Linked DNA regions of Homo sapiens. The protein of the gene in region 1 purifies or fractionates together with the protein of each later gene. This does not show direct contact. Each region holds a gene or a part of one and is shown in the gene's direction. Other genes may lie near its edges.

What was found. Proteins that work in one complex are often made in the same cells at the same time.
Region 2: the proteins of TEC (region 1) and ANKRD54 purify together in Homo sapiens (affinity purification with mass spectrometry; 2 studies listed by BioGRID and IntAct, with this or other methods). This does not show direct contact.

What each region holds. Positions count from the first base shown.
Region 1 is NC_000004.12:48,266,275-48,275,458, reverse strand, and holds the start of TEC (tyrosine-protein kinase Tec), read left to right. Parts: upstream 1-5,620; 5' UTR 5,621-5,707; intron 5,708-9,184.
Region 2 is NC_000022.11:37,833,434-37,842,207, reverse strand, and holds part of ANKRD54 (ankyrin repeat domain-containing protein 54), read left to right. Parts: intron 1-1,973; coding exon 1,974-2,021; intron 2,022-3,609; coding exon 3,610-3,708; intron 3,709-8,230; coding exon of another isoform or gene 8,231-8,291; intron 8,292-8,452; coding exon 8,453-8,524; intron 8,525-8,774. UniProt on the Homo sapiens protein: Plays an important role in regulating intracellular signaling events associated with erythroid terminal differentiation.

The sequences.
Region 1 (9,184 bases):
TAAGGGGGTGCTGTTACTTGCAGCTAAATCAAATTCTGAATGATTGACCTTCCACCAGAATGTAAGCTCCCCTACAACAGGGAGTTTTGTCTGGTTTGTTCACCAATGTTTTCTCAGTCTCCTATCGTAGTGATGGGTGCATTTTCATGGCTGCCACCCTCGCAAAGGAGGTAACTTCAAAAAGATCTGGAGATAGAGCACTCCAGGCAGAGGAAACAGCCTGTTCAAGCCCTCAGGCCAGAGAACTCTTTTTATTTATAGGAATAATACTCAATATATCATTTTATTGTGACAGAACAACTCAGCTTTTATAAACTATCAAACTGTTGAGATAATGGACCCCTTTGAAACTCTCTGTCTCTTTTGCTAAGCACAATCTGGTTTTACTTCTACATCTTCTTTTCTGGCTCTAACATCGAAAAAATTTTCAATTACTATCAAACCAACATAAAAACATTATACAAGAAATATATGTATAAACATCATTCATGATTCAAAGATCATTCCCTTTGGCAGCTTTGAAAGGTTAAAAATGTAAACCCTGGAGTTATACTGTTTTATGTTCACATCTGGGCTTTGCCACTCAATAACTATGATTTTGGGCTATTACTTAGACCTTCTCTGCCTTTGTTTCTTCATCTGTAAAATGAAGATAACAATAGTCCACCTCACACAGCTGTGAGAATTAAATGAATTAATCTAATATGCTTAGAAAGGATGCTGGCACATCCCCTCAATAACTGTTAATCATAATTCTTACTTTTCAGTTTTCCTCCACATAATTTGTATTTAGTTGCAATTACAGGTACTCAAAGCATTGTGTTCTACTTTTAAAAATATAATCTTGTTCATAAGTTTTATTTCCTATCTCTTTTTCATTAACATAGGTAATCTTATTTTATTATTTAATTAATTAATTAACTTATTTAGAGACAGGTTCTTGCTCTGTTGCCCAGGTTGGAGTGCAGTGGCACGATCTCAGCTCACTGCAACCCTGCCCTCCTGGGCTCAAGCAATCCTCCTACCTCAGCCTCCCGAATAGCTGGGACTGCAGGTGAGCACCACCAAGCCTGGCTAATATTTGTATTTTTAGTAGAGATGGAGTTTCGCCATGTTGTCCAGGCTGGTCTTGAACTCCAGAGCTCAAAAGATCCACCCGCCTCAGCCTCCCAAAGTGCTGGGATTATAGGTGTGAGCCACCATGCCTGACCAACATAGGTAATTTTAAATGACAGCTTGACATTCCATACTGTTAATATATTTTACTTAAACATTTCCTTATTATTGGACATTTATTTTATTATTATAATGATCTTATAAATATACTTTGCATATGATGCTTTTTATTTCTTTTGAATTATTTATTTAGCATCTCTTCCCAGAAATATGATTATTGATTCTGTGTCCAATATTTGAAACTCCTTCCTTCTATGCAATAGTTCTAAAGAAGCAACTACTTTCAGCACATGATGGAAGGAGAAGCAGACATATCATAGGATCACAATGAAGTCATCTTCATGTAGGAACAGACTCTCCATGGAAGACTGATAAGGTCTGCATTATCGTCATTGTCATCATCATTTATTCATCAACAAATGTATTAATTATCTATGATGGGCCAGTTTCCTTTTCAGTAGGAAGATGGTTACAAAATAAAACCAGTGACTTGCACAAAAGAATGCAAGAAGCTGGCCGGGCATGCTGGCTCATGCCTGTAATCTCAGCACTTTGGGAGGCTGAGGCGGGCGGATCACAAGGTCAGGAGTTCAAGACCAGCCTGGTCAACATGGTAAAACCCCATCTCTACTAAAAATACAAAAATTAGCCAGGCGTGGTGGCAGGCACCTGTAATCCCAGCTACTCAGGAGGCTGAGGCAGGAGAATTGCTTGAACCCAGGAGGCAGAGGTTTCAGTTAGCCGAGATTGTGCCACTGCACTCCAGCCTGGGCAACAGAACAAGACTCTGTCTCAGAAAAAAAAAAAAAAGGCAAGAAGCTATAAATACAAATATATACACACATATATTTTTGCAAACCTTCCAGGTTGATTCTGCATGTCTTCTTCTGTACCATGTGGAATCTACATGTAAGTTAAAAAGAGGCATTTTCGTCTCTCAAGGAACTGAAATTATGTCAACCTGATACTGATCATCTAAACAAATAAACTTTATGGAAGCCATAGCGATATCTTGTAAGAAGGGAGAGTCTTGTCTCCCAAGAAGTTTATATTAATACCTTTTTCTCTGTATCTTGATTTTCTTAAAATAAAGATGGTTTTACTAATATTGTTTGAGTCTTCTTTTTGGAGGCAGGGGGAGAAATCTTTTTAAGTCAACTACTAGATTCCTTCTTTTGACTAGGGACGAATGTAAAAGTTTGAATTATACAGGCCCAAATGTAGTATTCTGTTTTCACCTAAAAAATAAAAATTAAAGAAAGACTAAATCTTTTTTATTAATCCCACCACATTCTGAGTTCAGTTTTTACACCTTTTCCTTAATGTAGTTGAAGTTCCCTAATGGCCTCTTTTTTTTGTCTGTCTCTCTGTCTCTTTCTCAACACCTTGCTGAAAAAAATTGCCATTGTTCTCTATTATGTGATCTATGGATGGTATACCTGTGGCAATTGCCTACTTAAACTGTATGATTGATAGTGTAACAAATGTCTTATTTAGAAAACTATAACTTTATGAAAATTACCCCAACTATTAAGAATTATGTTGGATCTAGGTGTTTTATTTACAGATCTGTTCTCTTTGGCTTTTCTGAGAGTTAGTAGGGACAATACAGACACTTTTCTCTCTTTTAATTTAAACTTTATGAAGAAATTATGTAAGGGTCTGGGTTTTCTGCCTTTTCAAACTTCATAAACATTGAGATCCTCATTACCATTGTCAAGAATATGAGCTACCATCACCTACCAAGAACAGGCAAGGCGAATTGGAAACTGGTTCTTCTAACCATCATAATATCAGTTAATTCCTTAAGGCAGTAGCTCTTACCTTTTTGGGATCAGTCAATATGATAAAAGTTCTAAGTCCTCTCACTTAAAAATATACGTACATAAGCATTTTTCTTGGGAGAAAATTAACTGTATTACTATAATTATATATCTATAACTCTCTTTCCTGCCCCCCAACACAGTTTTTTTGCATAGAGTTTCAGATGGTTTATGGTCCTGTCCCCTCAAAGTACATCTGTGCTAGGGGAAATTACGTTAACTAGCCAAAACAAGTACCTGAATGGGACAAGAGGCAGGAGAGACTCGGGTAGGGAGGAGAGAGTAGATCATAAAAAAGAAATTTTACTAGATTCATTCAAAGTACTAGTCATTATACTCAAAGTCCTCACTGGAGAGAGGATTTGTAATCAGAAGGCCTTGGTCCAAATCTGTGCCCTCTTCCCATCTCCCCTTTTCCTAGATAGTTGTCTGACTTTTGGAAAGTCATTGAAACCTCTCTGACCCTCAGTTGTTGTTGCTGTTATTGTTTTCCCTGTTAAATCAGGGTTCCCCAACCCGCAGGCTGTGGACCAGTACCGGTCTGAGGTCTGTTAGGAACCTGGCCGCATAGCAGGAGGTAAGCGGTTGAGCGGTGGGCAAGGGAGCAAAGCTTCATCTGTATTTACAGCCACTCCCCATTGCCTGCATTACGGCTGAGCTCCGCCTCCTGTCAGATCAGCCTTGGCCTTAGATTCTCTCAGGAGTGCAAACCCTAGTGTGAACTGTGCATTCGAGGGATCTAGGTGGTGTACGCGTTACGAGAATCTAATGCCTGATGATCTGAGGTGGAACAGTTTCATCCTCAAACCATCTCTTCCTGACACCTGTCCATGGAAAAATTATCTTCCATAAAACCAGTCCCTGGTGCCAAAAAGGTTGGGGACCACTGTATTAAATGGAATCTTGTTAGACTTCTCAGGGTTATTACAGTGATCAAAGGAGAAATGATATAGGAAGGCACTACTTTTAAGTCCCAAGCAAGCATGAGGTGTGATAAGTATCAAAGCACTTGCCATTCCCTTAGCTTCAGCCTTGGGTTGGCCGTCTGTCCTATCATTCAGGTCTCAGCTCCACTGTTACCCCAGAGAAGCCTCCAGTAACATCATATCTAAAGTAGCCTCCCTCTCCCTTTCACTCTCAATTCCATCACCCTGCTTTATTTTAGTCAAGACACCTCACTTACGAAGTGGTTTAATTTTTTGCTTGCCTGTTGATCATGTGAGACAAGTAACAAACGTTAAGAAGCCATGCTTGCTCATTTCTGCTTGTCAGCATAATTTCACACAGCCCCTGACTCTGTGACCACCTGCAGCTGGCGGAAAGATGCTTTGAAGACAAAACGAGATAGAACACAGGATCCCCCACGTCTCTTGCCTGAGCCCTTGCCTTTTACTGCACCTAAGATAAAGTCTGATGAGGTTAGTGATTATGCTTCTGTAATCTATAAACAGATGTACTCTTAAGCCCAAACTGTGATGTGCTTTTACACATACTGAATCTTCACCAACTGTTTCTAAATTGAGAAGGGAAGTTCTGTGTTGGAGGGATCTGCTTGAATCTCTCTAAAAGACTCCTCCAGGGCTGTAGGCCTCCATCTCTAGTCCTCAGTAAGACTTCTGAATAAAACTAACTTTCATTCTTTAACAGCTTGATTTTTAAATTTTAGTCGACAATCACTTATTGTCTTTCTCCTACAGTAGAATAAAAGTTTCCTAATGGCAGAGTCCTTGCCTCATCTTCCCCAGGCATGGGAACAGTTCCTGGTATAGGATGCACACAGATTTTGCTGATTCAGGATAGCCGTGAATAACAGTGGAGACTCCAGAGGAGGAAGACCTGGATTTGAAGCCCAGCTTCTCAACCCAGCTTCTCAATTTACTAGTTGGGTGACATTAGGCAAGTTATTTAGCTTCTCTCTGCCTCACTTGCACCGTATGTGAAAAGGGGGATTCTGATAATATACGCTTCAGAGAACTTTTAGTACATGTGAAGTACCTAGAACAGTGCCTGGCACACAGTTAAGTCTTACATGTGTTTTCTACTCTTCAGTGAGTTTAATGTTAACACATTAATAGTGCACGTGACCCTCTAAGTGTATCAGATATGCACTGCTCCCTCGGGTTTCACAGGAAAACCACTTACTCTTTTGGTAAAACAGGCTGCATGGCTCCACTGCTCCGCGTCACCCGCCTGGCCTCCCACCGCTTAGCGGAAGGGGAGGTGCGGTTCCTAATTCCGACAGGCACGTAGTCTTCCACAAGTGGCACTACTCGGGGCTCTCCTGGCTAGGGGCGTTCGAGCCACTAGGGGCGGGTCTCCTGGGATGGGAAGACTGGGGCTAGGGAGGTTCAACGCCGCCCCCGGAAACCTAAGGGACGCTCCCTGAAACTCACCGGGACGCGCTTCCGACCCATTCCGGTCACTTGCCTTGAAATCGCCGCAGGGCTGCGCAAACCTGCCACCCAGGGCCCAAGCGACCGGGGCGGGGCGATCGAGGACTGGGCGGGCCTGCAGGATCAGAGGCGGGGTAGGGCGTCCACGGGGCCAGCAATCGGGGCGGGGCGGGGTGATTGGGGGCGGGACGGGGAGATCAGAGGGCGGGGCGGGGCGCTTTGCTCTGGACTCTGGGGCGCTAGGCTCCGGACTCCGCGGCGCAGACTGCACCTCGCAGTCTCCCCAGGTCCGCCCAGCAGCCGCGCTTCAGCCAGGTAAGGGCGCCGCGGGCGGGCTGGGGCGGCCCCGGGAGTGCGATACTCCGGGCGAGGACGGGTGGGGAGGGGGATGAGCGCGGCAAGAGGCGGCTTCCACACGCCCCTCGAGGAACGGGGAAGGATTTTCTCCCCTCCGTGCCGCAGTGAGCGCGGGTGCGCCGTCTCTGGGTCCCCTCTTCGGTCCGGGAAGGAGGGACAGGTGCGCGCAGTGGCGCAGCCTCGCCTTCCTGCCGGCAGTAGATTCTCCACTTCTCCAACTCCCGCACTGACCTCTCCTAAGGAACACCCGCCCCTTTTTCTTGAAGTTCCAGGCCTGAGGCCGCCCTGCGGCAAGTTCAGCGTTGGGGTCACGTCCCAGCGGCGAGCAGGGCTGATGCCTCCTTTCGGGTTGGGCGGCGGCGCGATCTTGATTGAAATTTGGCAGTGTCGAGATAGATATACCTAATGTAAATGACAAGTTAATGGGTGCAGCACACCAACATGGCACATGTATACATATGTAACAAACCTGCACGTTGTGCACATGTATCCTAGAACTTAAAGTATTAAAAAAAAAATTTGGCAGTATCGGCCAAGATGTTCCGCAGTTGCACGTGACTCACCCAGTGAAGTTCACGTTCTCTTCCCCACCCCCCCAATACCCCGCCCACCTCGCCCCGGGAAGTTGTGTTTGAATATTGAAAACAGGTGCCCGGCCAATGTATGTACTTCTTGGAAAAACTAGGGCCTTGACCTGGGAGTGTACACTTTCCTAATTTTCTTTAATCCTAAATTTCTTGTGGATTTTATTTTATTTTATTTTTCCCGTGGACGTGTAACATGGTGGTGTGTACCAGGTTTGGAAACAATCTCATCCATTGCTATTCTTTGGAAACTGGAATATTTGATTCGAAAGATTGATCTTAATGTTAACTTGGAACAACAGGATGGCTGGTGGCTAAGTGGGTTTGAAGATTATCCAAAATAGTTATAAGTTTTGCGCGTATTCCTTGTATTTTTCCAGTGAATGCTCATTTTCCTCTTGGGAAATTCTGAGAATTTACTCACTTCTAGATTATTCTCTGCTAAAGAGCTGGGAAGAAACAAACCAGCGGATCTCCCAAATAAAGTTTGGGATTTAACAGTTTAGGTCGTGACACTGGTAGCTGCTTACTCTGCAATAATCACCTGGAGTAAGGGATATTAAGATTTATTTCTAAGGGGAAAATAGAAGTATGGGTAACTTTCACATTATGTATTTGAAAGTATTTTTTAGTTTAGTTACATTTTCAATGTTTACGGAAGACTTACACTTTCCCCATACTCCAGTTAATCTGATCCATATATTACACTCTTGCCAACGCAGATGCTTACTGTGGTGTGTTTATGTTAATGATCTTGACTCTTCTCACAAGGGTGTGTACATTCTGGTCTGTGGAACTGTATAGGCCAAGTGTAAACTCATGCAGTCAGTGCTTTACTCTAGTTGGCAATACCTTTGCCCCACATAGGTCCAACTAGAATTTTCACATCTTCCCAACTAGGAAAGGATATAGAATATTAATGTATGCTCTAGCATTTTCAACCTACTTTATTCTTTATCAAGATAATCATGTTTTCTCAGCAGCTAGTTACTCAAGGGCAGCAGCTATGTTTTACCAAACCGTGGAAAATAAAGCTGAGATAATGGTAACCTTTGCTTCCTTAAGTTGACCCTTGATAGGGAGGTTGGAAGGGTTGTGAGCAGTGTCTGGCCTACTTTTACGCTTGGGGAAGAATTACTGGCCTCTCTGCCTTTCTCCGGGTATCCAGAGTGCTGGGAGACAGGGCCTTGGGCCTCCAGCCACACCTCTGCCTACAGGTTCCTCCAGGTTGACCAGGTTGGTGCCTCTCCTCCCTGCCCCAGCTGTTCCAGCTCCTTAGCTTCCACCCCACCCCTCCCAGATTCTTACCCCTAGACAAATCACCATGTTGTTCAGGGCAGGGGTACTTGGTCTGCAGAGTCAGCATGAGTGTTGATCTTCAGCATGGTGCTGGTTCCCCGTGGATGCTCCTTGGATGTCTGCTGCTTCAGAGCCTTTATTATGCTCCCTTCTTGTCCAGTCTACAGCAGGCAAAGTGGAGTTACTGAAGTCAAACCCAGATCAACAGTCTTGGGGGCCAGCTGCCTTGGTTGGACTAATTACGATCATAAATTGGGCATTCAAGTCTGTTGGAAAAAAGTGAAATTGGCTCATGGTCACTGGCAATTGTAAAATTATCCTGTACGATGTGGTTATGCTATTATAAAAGGTTTGTGGAAAAATAAGAAACAACCCAGAAGGAAGGGGCCTAGTAGTTGCCTCCACCTCCAAACACGCCTGTGCTTGGGCTTGCCTTATTGTCACTACCCCAGCTCAACCAATTCTTCTGGGATTGGATTGTAACAATTAATTTCCCCACCATGTTTGACTGCTCAGAGCTCAGATGACCGCAGCTACTGTAGTATAGATGTAGAGAATTACATACTCTTTTGTTTAGAGAAACAAGGATGGGCTTTTTCAAAACAGATTGTTATTAGGGAAACAAAGAAAAAGCAAACAAATGTAAAAATGTGTGGGCACAGAAGCCAAAGTTTGTTTTGTTATGGTTTATAGTTTTAAACTTTTATCCAAGTTACATTTCTCCCTTTCCAGAAACAACCACTTGTAATTCTTTGCCATTTGTGGCTTATAGTTGATACTTCTTGATTTTTCAATTTTAAGCATTATCTGTTGACTTCCCACTGTGGAAGATGATGAGTTGGCTCTCTTTTTCCCTCCAACCCCCAACGCAAGTACAGCTTCCCTATTTTCCCATTCTTGCAGTCGTTAAAACAGAATATTGAATAATGGTTAGATCAAAATTCACAGCTAAGCCAAGCATAACTTTTTTTTCGTTTTTTTTTTTTTTGAGACAGAGTTTTGCTCTTGTTGCCCAGGCTGGAATGCAATGGCACGATCTTGGCTCACCACAACCTCTGCCTCCCGGGTTCAAGCGATTCTCCTGCCTCGGCTTCCTGAGTAGTTGGGATTACAGGCATGTGCCACCACGCCTAGCTAATTTTTGTATTTCTAGTAGAGATGGGGTTTCTCCATGTTAATCAGGCTGGTCTCAAACTCGTGACCTCAGGTGATCTACTTGCCTTGGGCTCCCAAAGTGCTGGGATTACAGGCGTGACCAAACATAACTTTTTATTTTCCTTGGAGTTAATAATGGATTTGTTTGTTCATTTTATTTATTTTGTGCTCTTCATTGATTAAACCCACAGCTCTTGGCCAGTTTTCCAAATTCTCCCTCAATTGACCAGGTATTTTGTCAATTTCGTTTTCCTCAAGAAGCTGTTCCTGAGCCTACTGGCTTGCTATAATCCAGACTGGGTGCCTTTGGTACATTGGCACACTTGTCACCCCAAGGGTTCCCTTTGTCATCATTCTGGAGATTCTCATCATTTGTCTCTTGTGTTGGATCTCCTGG
Region 2 (8,774 bases), on another chromosome or scaffold:
AATCTCGGCTCACTGCCTCAGCCTCCCAAGTAGCTGGGACTACAGGCCCGCACCACCACACCCAGCTAGTTTTTGTATTTTTAGTAGAGATGGGGTTTTACCATGTTAGATTGATTTAAGTTAGAACTTAACCTAAGATTGAGAAATATTTTTTCTTTCTTTTTTTTTGAGATGGAGTGTTGCTCTGCCACCCAGGCTGGAGTGCCATGGTGTGATTTTGGGCTCAAGTGATTCTCGTGTCTCAGCCTCCCAAGTAGCTGGGATTACAGGCATGCACCACCACACCCGGCTAATTTTTGTGTTTTTATTTTATTTATTTATTTATTTATTTATTTATTTATTTATTTATTTATTTATTTTGAGACAGAGTCTTGCTCTATTGCCCAGGCTGGAGTGCAGTGGCGCGATCTTGGCTCACTGCAACCTCCGGCTCTCAAGTTCAAGTGATTCTCCTGCCTTAGCCTCCTGAGTAGTTGGGATAACAGGCATGCACCACCATGCCTGGCTAATTTTTGTATTTTTAGTAGAGAAGGGATTTCACCTTATTGGCCAGGCTGGTCTCAAACTCCTGACCTCGTGATCCACCCACCTTGGCCTCTCAAAGTGTTGGGATTACAGGCGTGAGCCACTGTGCCCGGCCTATGTTTTTTGTGTGTGTGTGTGTGTGTGTGTGTGTTTGTGTGAGACAGAGTCTCACTCTGTTGCCCGAGCTGGAGTACAGTGGCACAGTCTTGGCTCACTGCAACCTCTGCCTCCTGGGCTTAAGCGATTCTCCTGCCTGAGCCTCCCAAGTAGCTGGGATTGTAGGCGTGCACCCCCATGCCCAACTAATTTTTTGTATTTTAGTATAGACAAGGTTTCACCATGTTGCCCAGGGTGGTTTCAAACTCCAGAGCACAGGCAATCTGCCCACCTCAGCTTTCCAACGTTCTGGGATTACAGGCGTGAGTCACCACGTATGGCTAGTTTTGTATTTTTAGTAGAGATGGGGTTTCAGCATGTTGGCCAGGCTGGTCTTGAACTCCTGGCCTCAAGTGATCCACCTGCCTTGGCCTCCCAAAGTACCGGGATTATAGGCATGAGCCACTGCGCCCAGCCATTGTGGCTTTTTTTTTTTTTTTTTTTCCTGAGACAGTCTCACTTTGTTGCCCAGGCTGGAATGCAGTGGCGTGATCTCATCTCACTGTAGCCTCCGCCTTCCGGCTTCAACCCATTCTCCTACCTCGGCCTCCTAAGTAGCTGGTGTTACACGTGCACACCACCACACCCAGCTAGATGGCTGGGTTTTTTTTGTTGGTTTTTGTTGTTTTTGTTTTTTTCTGAGACAGCGTCTCACTCTGTCACCCAGGCTGGAGTGCAGTGGCGCGATTTTGGCTTACTGCAACCTCCATGTCCTGGGTTCAAGTGATTCTCCTACCTCAGCCTCCAGAGTAGCTGGGATTACAGGCATGTGCACCACACCCGGCTAATTTTTTTGTATTTTTAGTAGAGATGGGGTTTCACCATGTTGTCCAGGCTGGTTTTGAACTCCTGGCCTCAAGTGATCCACCTGCCTCGGCCTCCCAAAGTGCTGGGATTACAGACGTGAGCCATCATGCCCAGCCAATGGCTGTGTTTTTTTTGTGTGTGTTTGTTTGTTTGTTTGTTTTGAGACGGAGTCTCACTCTGTCACCCAGGCTGGAGTGCAGTGGCGCGATCTCTGCTCACTGCAAGCTCCACCTCCCAGGTTCACGCCATTCACCCGCCTCAGCCTCCCGAGTAGCTGGGACTACAGGCACCTGCCACCACGCCCGGCTAATTTTTTTGTATTTTTAGTAGAGATGGGGTTTCACCATGTTAGCCAGGATGGTCTCGATCTCCTGACCTTGTGATCTGCCTGCCTTGGCCTCCCAGAGTGCTGGGATTATAGGCATGAGCCACCGCACCCAGCCATGGCTGTTTTTTTAAACTGGCATCCGTTACTCTCTTTACAGCTCTGAAGAGACTGAGGGACTCGGCCAATGCCAATGATGTGGAAACAGGTGAGTGTGCACAGTAGGTCCAGCTACAGGGTCCCATGGGCTGGTTGGGGAAGGAAAAGGCCAGGTAATCAATATGTGGGAAGGCAGTCTGCAAACTCACGCCCTTGGAGCAGGCTCACTGTATTTATTGTCTGACTGTGCAGTCATCTTGCTGAAGGTAAGTCTGGCTTAGACACTCACTCTCCCCATGCTCCCCTGTCACTTTGAACTTCCTGATGTCATAGCATTTACCACCCTGTGGACTCCTTGATGGTGGAGACCATGTATACTTTTGTATCCCTGGCAGCCAGCACAGTCTTCTGCAAAGAGTAGGCACTAACTTTGGAACTTGTGGTTAATGGGAGTGAATACTCAACTTAGCTGCCACGGCCAGGTGAGGTGGCTCATGCCTGTAATCCCAGCACTTTGGGAGGCTAAGGCAAGAGGATCACTTGGGCTCAGGAGTTTGAGACCAGCCTGGACAACATAGGGAGACCTCGTCTCTACAAAAAGTAAATGTTAGCTGGGCGCGGTGGCTCACGCCTGTAATCCCAGCACTTTGGGAGGCCGAGCTGGGCAGATCACGAGGTTAGGAGATCGAGACCATCCTGGCTAACACTGTGAAACCCCATCTCTACTGAAAATACAAAAAATTAGCCGGACGTGGTGGTGGGCGCCTGTAGTGCCAGCTACTTGGGAGGCTGCGGCAGGAGAATGGTGTGAACCTGGGAGACAGAGCTTGCAGTGAGCGGAGATGACGCCACTGCACTCTAGCCTGCGCGACAGAGCGAAATTCTGTCTCAAATAAATAAATAACATAAGAAAAAAATTTTTTAAAAATGTTGTGGAAATTAGAGAAATATATAAGAAAAAATCCATGTCCGCAAAGGAACTAATCTGTTAATATTTTGATGAATATCCTTCAAGGCTTCTTTCCTATACACTGGAATTTTCTTTATGGGCTGGCTTGCAAACTGCTATATACACATGCTGTAGCCTGCATAATTTTTTGTGTATCATAAACATTTTTTCGGGCCGGGTGTGGTGGCTCACGCCTGTAATCCCAGCACTTTGGGAGGCTGAAGTGGGCGGATCACCTAAGGTCAGGAGGTCGAGACCAGCCTGACCAATATGGTGAAACCCCGTCTCTACTAAAAATACAAAAATTAGCTGGGGGCTACTTGGGAGGCCCCAAGTAGCTGGGGGATTGCTGCCTGCTGGGAGCATAGCATAGGCCAATAGCTTGGGCAGCTGTTTCCAGCCAGAATGGATGTGTATCCAAGCCGAGGTCACGGGAGGGGGACCACTGTCTATGCTAGGGATTCCTGTGACCCTAAAATTTCTGACCCTGAGGGCCTTGAACCTCCTACGATGTTCTATCACTAGACGTGTAGTTTGAGCACTCAGAATCCATGGCCTTCAGTTGTGCCCTCAGAAGAACAAGTTGCTTGTTCCCATAGGACCAGCATCTAGGAAGGGCTGCTTTCCTATGCATTGTCGATGTCTTGTCTAGAGGCACCCCTGAGCCTCCCTCTCCATCGCTCGGGTCTGCAGCTTAGCTAACATCGCCGCTTTCTCCCCCTTCCTCCCTCTGTCTTGGTGGTGTCAGTGCAGCAGCTGCTGGAAGATGGCGCGGATCCCTGTGCAGCTGATGACAAGGGCCGCACAGCTCTACACTTTGCCTCATGCAATGGCAATGACCAGATTGGTGAGTCCTGGGGAGGGAGGAGGGAGTAGGGCTAGGCAAGTAGTGTCTCTGCACAGGCCTTGGGGGAGGCGCTGCTGTCTGCACAGCCTTGGGATGCCCAGTTGTTCTGGATATAAGGAAGACTTGGCACTGCAGTGCCCTGCCCTTCTCCCTCTGTTAGCCTGTGGAACTGGCAATGTTAGACTGGGGCAGGGTAAACCTGGGGGAGATAATATGATTGACTGAGGATGAAGGGATATCTCCAACTAAGAGACCACTGGAGAGTGCAGGGCCCAGGCCTTCAAGACTTTCAGGTAACATTTACTCAGTGCCAACCACAGCAGCAGGACAGCTTTTCTCTTTTTATAGGAGTCTTTTTTTTTTTTGAGATGGAGTCTCGCTCTGTCGCCCAGGCTGGAGTGCAGTGGTGCCATCTCGGTTCACTGTAAGCTCTGCCTCCCGGGTTCACGCCATTCTCCTGCCTCAGCCTCCCAAGTAGCTGGGACTACAGGCACCCGCCACCATGCCTGGCTAATTTTTTATATGTTTTTAGTAGAGACGGGGTTTCACTGTATTAGCCAGTATGGTCTCGATCTCCTGACCTCGTGATCCACCCGCCTCGGCTTCCCAAAGTGCTGGGATTACAGGCATGAGAGACTGCACCCGGCCACACCGGTTAATTTTTTTGTATTTTTTAGTAGAGATGGGGTTTCACCATGTTGGCCAGGCTGGTCTTGAACTCCTGACCTCGTGATCCACCTGCCTTGGCCTCCCAAAGTGCTGGGATTACAGGCGTGAGCCACTGCACCAGCCTTGCATACTTTTACTCAAAGTTATCTCCATGAGATTCACCCATGAATACTGCCTATATCAGTACAGTCTTCCCTCAGTGTTCTTGGGATTGGTTCCAGGACCCCACTCAGATACCAAACTCCATGGATGCTCAAGTCCTTTGAAGTTGGCCCTCCATATCCTCGGGTTCTGAGTCCAGGGTTCATTGAATCTGTGGACACAGTATTCACAGTTAGGGAGGGTGGACTGTAGTTAGTACTTTCTTATGCTGGTTTGTATTTCATTGTGATATACCCCATTTATCCATTCTACTATTGACGGACATTTGTGGTGTTTCCAGGTTTTAGCTTTATGAATGAAGTGTTGTGAACATTCTTGTATATGTGATTTGTGGCTGTAAACACTCATCTATCCTCTATAAACCTAGGAATGGCATTGTTGGGTCACTAGGGTACACATGTATTTAGCTTTAGTAGGTACTACTAAACCTTTTCCCAAAAGGGATGTACTGACACACACTCCCACTCCCCACCAGCAGTGTAAGAGTTCCACCTTTCCCTACGTCCCTGCCAGTGCTTGCTGTTGTCTCTCTTTAATCTTAACCCTTTTGGTGTCTCATAGTGGTTTAATTTGCATTTCTCTGATGGCCAGTAACGTTGAGCACCTCTTCATGTGTTTATTGGCCTTTTTTTTTTTTTTTTGAGACGGAGTCTTGCCTGTCGCCCAGGCTGGAGTGCAATGGCGTGATCTCGGCTCATTGCAACCTCCACCTCCTGGGTTTGAGTAATTCTCCTGCTTCAGCCTCCCGGGTAGCTGGGATTATAGGCACGCATCATCACACCCAGTTAATTTTTGTATTTTTAGTAGAGACAGGGTTTCACCATGTTGGCCAGGCTAGTCACAAACTCCTGACCTCAGGAGATCCACCTGTCTCGGCCTCCCAAAGTGCTGGGATTACAGGTGTGAGCCACCATGCCCGGGCCATTTTTTTTTTTAAACTTTAAGTTCTGGGATGCATGTGCAGAACGTGCAGGTTCGTTACATAGGTACACCTGTGCCGTGGTGGTTTTCTGTACCCATCAACCCGTCATCTAGGTTTTAAGCCCCTCATGCATTAGGTATTTGTCCTAATGCTCTCCCTCCCCTTGGCCCCCACCCCCCGACAGGCCCTGGTATGTGATGTTCCCCTCCCTGTGTCCAATTATTGACCATTTTTACATCCTCTTTTATGAACTATATGTTCAAATCTTTTGTCCTTTTTTTTTTTTTTTTTTTTTTTTTGAGACAGAGTTTCACTCTTTGTTGCCCAGGCTGGAGTGCAATGGCGTGATCTCGGCTAACCACAACCTCTGCCTCCCGGGTTAAAGTGATTCTCCTGCCTCATCCTCCCAAGTAGCTGGGATTACAGGCATGCGCCACTACGCCCGGCTAATTTTGTATTTTTAGTGGAGACCGGGTTTCTCCATGTTGGTCAGGCTGGTCTCGAACTCCTGACCTCAGGTGATCCACCCGCCTCGGCCTCCCATAGCGCTGGGATTACAGGCGTGAGCCACCGCACCTGGCCTCTTTTGTCCATTTTTTTAAAAACAAGTTTTGCCTGGGCGCGGTATCTCACGCCTGTAATCCCAGCACTTTGGGAGGCCGAGGCGGGTGGATCATGAGGTCAGGAGATCGAGACCATCCTGGCTAACACGGTGAAACCCCATCTCTACTAAATATACAAAAACTTAGCCGGGTGTGGTGGCGGGTGCCTGTAGTTCCAGCTACTCGCTGAGGCAGGAGAATGGTGTGAAGCCGGGAGGCGGAGCTTACAGTGAGCCGAGATCGCGTGACTGCACTCCAGACTGGGAGAGAAAGCAAGACTCTGTCTCAAAAACAAACAAACAAACAAAAAAAACTAGTTTTCTGTCTTTTTCTTTTTTTGAGACAAAGTCTCACTCTGTCATCCAGGCTTACGTGCAGTGGCCTGATCACTGCCCACTGCAGCCTCAATCTCCTAGGCTCAAGCAATCCTCCTGCCTCAGCCTCCCAAGTAGCTGGGACGACAGGTGCACACCACCAAGCCCAGCTAATTTTAAAACATCTTGTAGAGACGTGGTCCTGCTATGTTACCCAGCTGTTCTCTAACTCTTGGGCTCAGGCGATCCTGTCACCTTGGCCTCCCAAAGTATTGGGATTACAAGCATGAGCCACTGCGCCTGGCCTTTTTCTTATTGATTTGTAAGAATTCTTTGTATATTCTGGTTAGAAATCATTTATCAAATATAAATGACTTGATTTTCTGAGCTTGCTGTTTCATTTTCTGAGTGGTATACTTTGATGAACACAAGTTCCTAATTTTATTTTTATTTATTTATTTATTTATTTGAGACAGAGTCTCACTCTGTTGCCTAGGCTGGAGTGCAGTGGTGTGATCTTGGCTCACTGCAAGCTCTGCTCCCCAGGTTCAAGCTATTCTCCCACCTCAGCCTCCTGAGTAGCTGGGATTACAGATGCGTGTCACCACACCCACCTAATTTTTTATTTTTAGTAGAGATGGGATTTCACCATGTTGGTCAGGCTGGTCTCGAACTCCTGACCTCCGATGATCCACCCGCCTTGGCCTCCCAAAGTGCTGGGATTACAGGCGTGAGCTCCTGTGCCCTGGCCTATTTTATTTTTTATTTTTTGGAGACAGAGTCTCGCTCTGTCACCCAGGCTGGAGTTCAGTGGCATGATCTTGGCTCCCTGGAACCTCCACCTCCTAGGTTCCAGCAATTCTCCTGCCTCAGCCTCCCAAGTAGCTGAGACTACAGGGGTATGCCACCACACCCAGCTAATTTTTGTGTTTTTAGTACAGACAGTTTCAACATGTTGAACAGCCTGGTCTTGAACTCCTGACCTCAGATGATCTGGCTGCCTTGGCCTCCCAAAGTGCTGGGATTACAGGCATGAGCCACCGTGCCCAGCCATGTTCTTAATTTTAATGAATCCAATTTATCAATATTTCTTTCCTTTCTCTTTTTTTTTTTTTTTTTTTTTTTTTTTTTTTGAGACAGGGTCTGTCTCTGTTGCCTAGGCTGGAGTGCACTGGCACCATCTCGGCTGACTGCAACCTCGACCTTCTGGGCTCAAGCCGCCCTGCCACCTCAGCCTCTCAAGTAGCTGGGACTACAAGTCTGCCATCACTATGCCCAGCTAATTTTTGTGTTTTTAGTATAGAGAAAGGGTTTCTCCATGTTGCCCAGGCTGGTCTTGAACTCCTGAGCTCAAATGATCCACCTGCCTCGGCATCCCAAAGTGCTGGGATTAACAGGCCTGAGCTCCCATGCCTGGCCTTTTCTTTCCTATGGTTAGTATTTTTGTGACCTATTTAAGAAATCTTTGCCTGCCCAAGATGTTCATGTTCTTCTGGAAGCCTGTTTTAGCATTCACACTTATGTCTATGGTCCCTCTTGAATTAGTTTTTGTACATGGTGTGAGGCTCAGCCTGACCTCCCTGTATGATGTCTGGGATCCAGGCTACCTGCCTATGCATCCTTCTGGGTATTGGCAGACCCTGGTGATAATACAGCACACCCCTGAGGTGATCCCAAGACTGCCAGGAGGGAGAGGTTATCCATGGAGCTCAGCATCATTTATTGACTTAATTCCTACCATGGTGCTTGGCTGTGGGAGAAGCAGAAAATGCCCTGGACAGCCTTCACCAGGAGCAGCTGCTATTGGAAGAACTTTACTTAACCCTTCAAATCTCATTCCTACACCTGCATAGGCCAAGAGGCCCTCCCCAAATCCTCAGTTCCTGGCCCTCAGGGCTTTGCCCATGAACTCTGGTAAGTAAGTGAGTGAGTGAGTGAATGAATGAAGTAACACAGCCATCCATGCTTGCATTCCGTGTCCCCTACTCTGAGCCAGCCTCTCTAGCTAGGTTAGGGGTTCAGGGTGCAGGCAATGGAAGCCTCCGACAACTCCTCTTGGGTTTGCCTGTTTCCAGTGCAGCTGCTCCTGGACCATGGTGCTGATCCTAACCAGCGAGATGGGCTGGGGAACACGCCACTGCACCTGGGTAAGCATGTCAGAAGTCACTAAGACAACTCATTTGCAGCAAAGAAAGGCTCTTTAGATGAAGAGGGTGGGGCCCGGCATGCTCCTGGCAGAAACTGTGAGTGTCAGGGAAGATCCTAGGCCTGCACTCCCAGGGCTGCACTGCCCAGCAGCCTGTGTCCCATGGGCCTTCCAATCATTTAGCAGTTGGCTGTGCCCTCGGCAGAGCCAATTTAGCAACCTAGGCTAGCCCAGCAGCACTCAGCACTGTG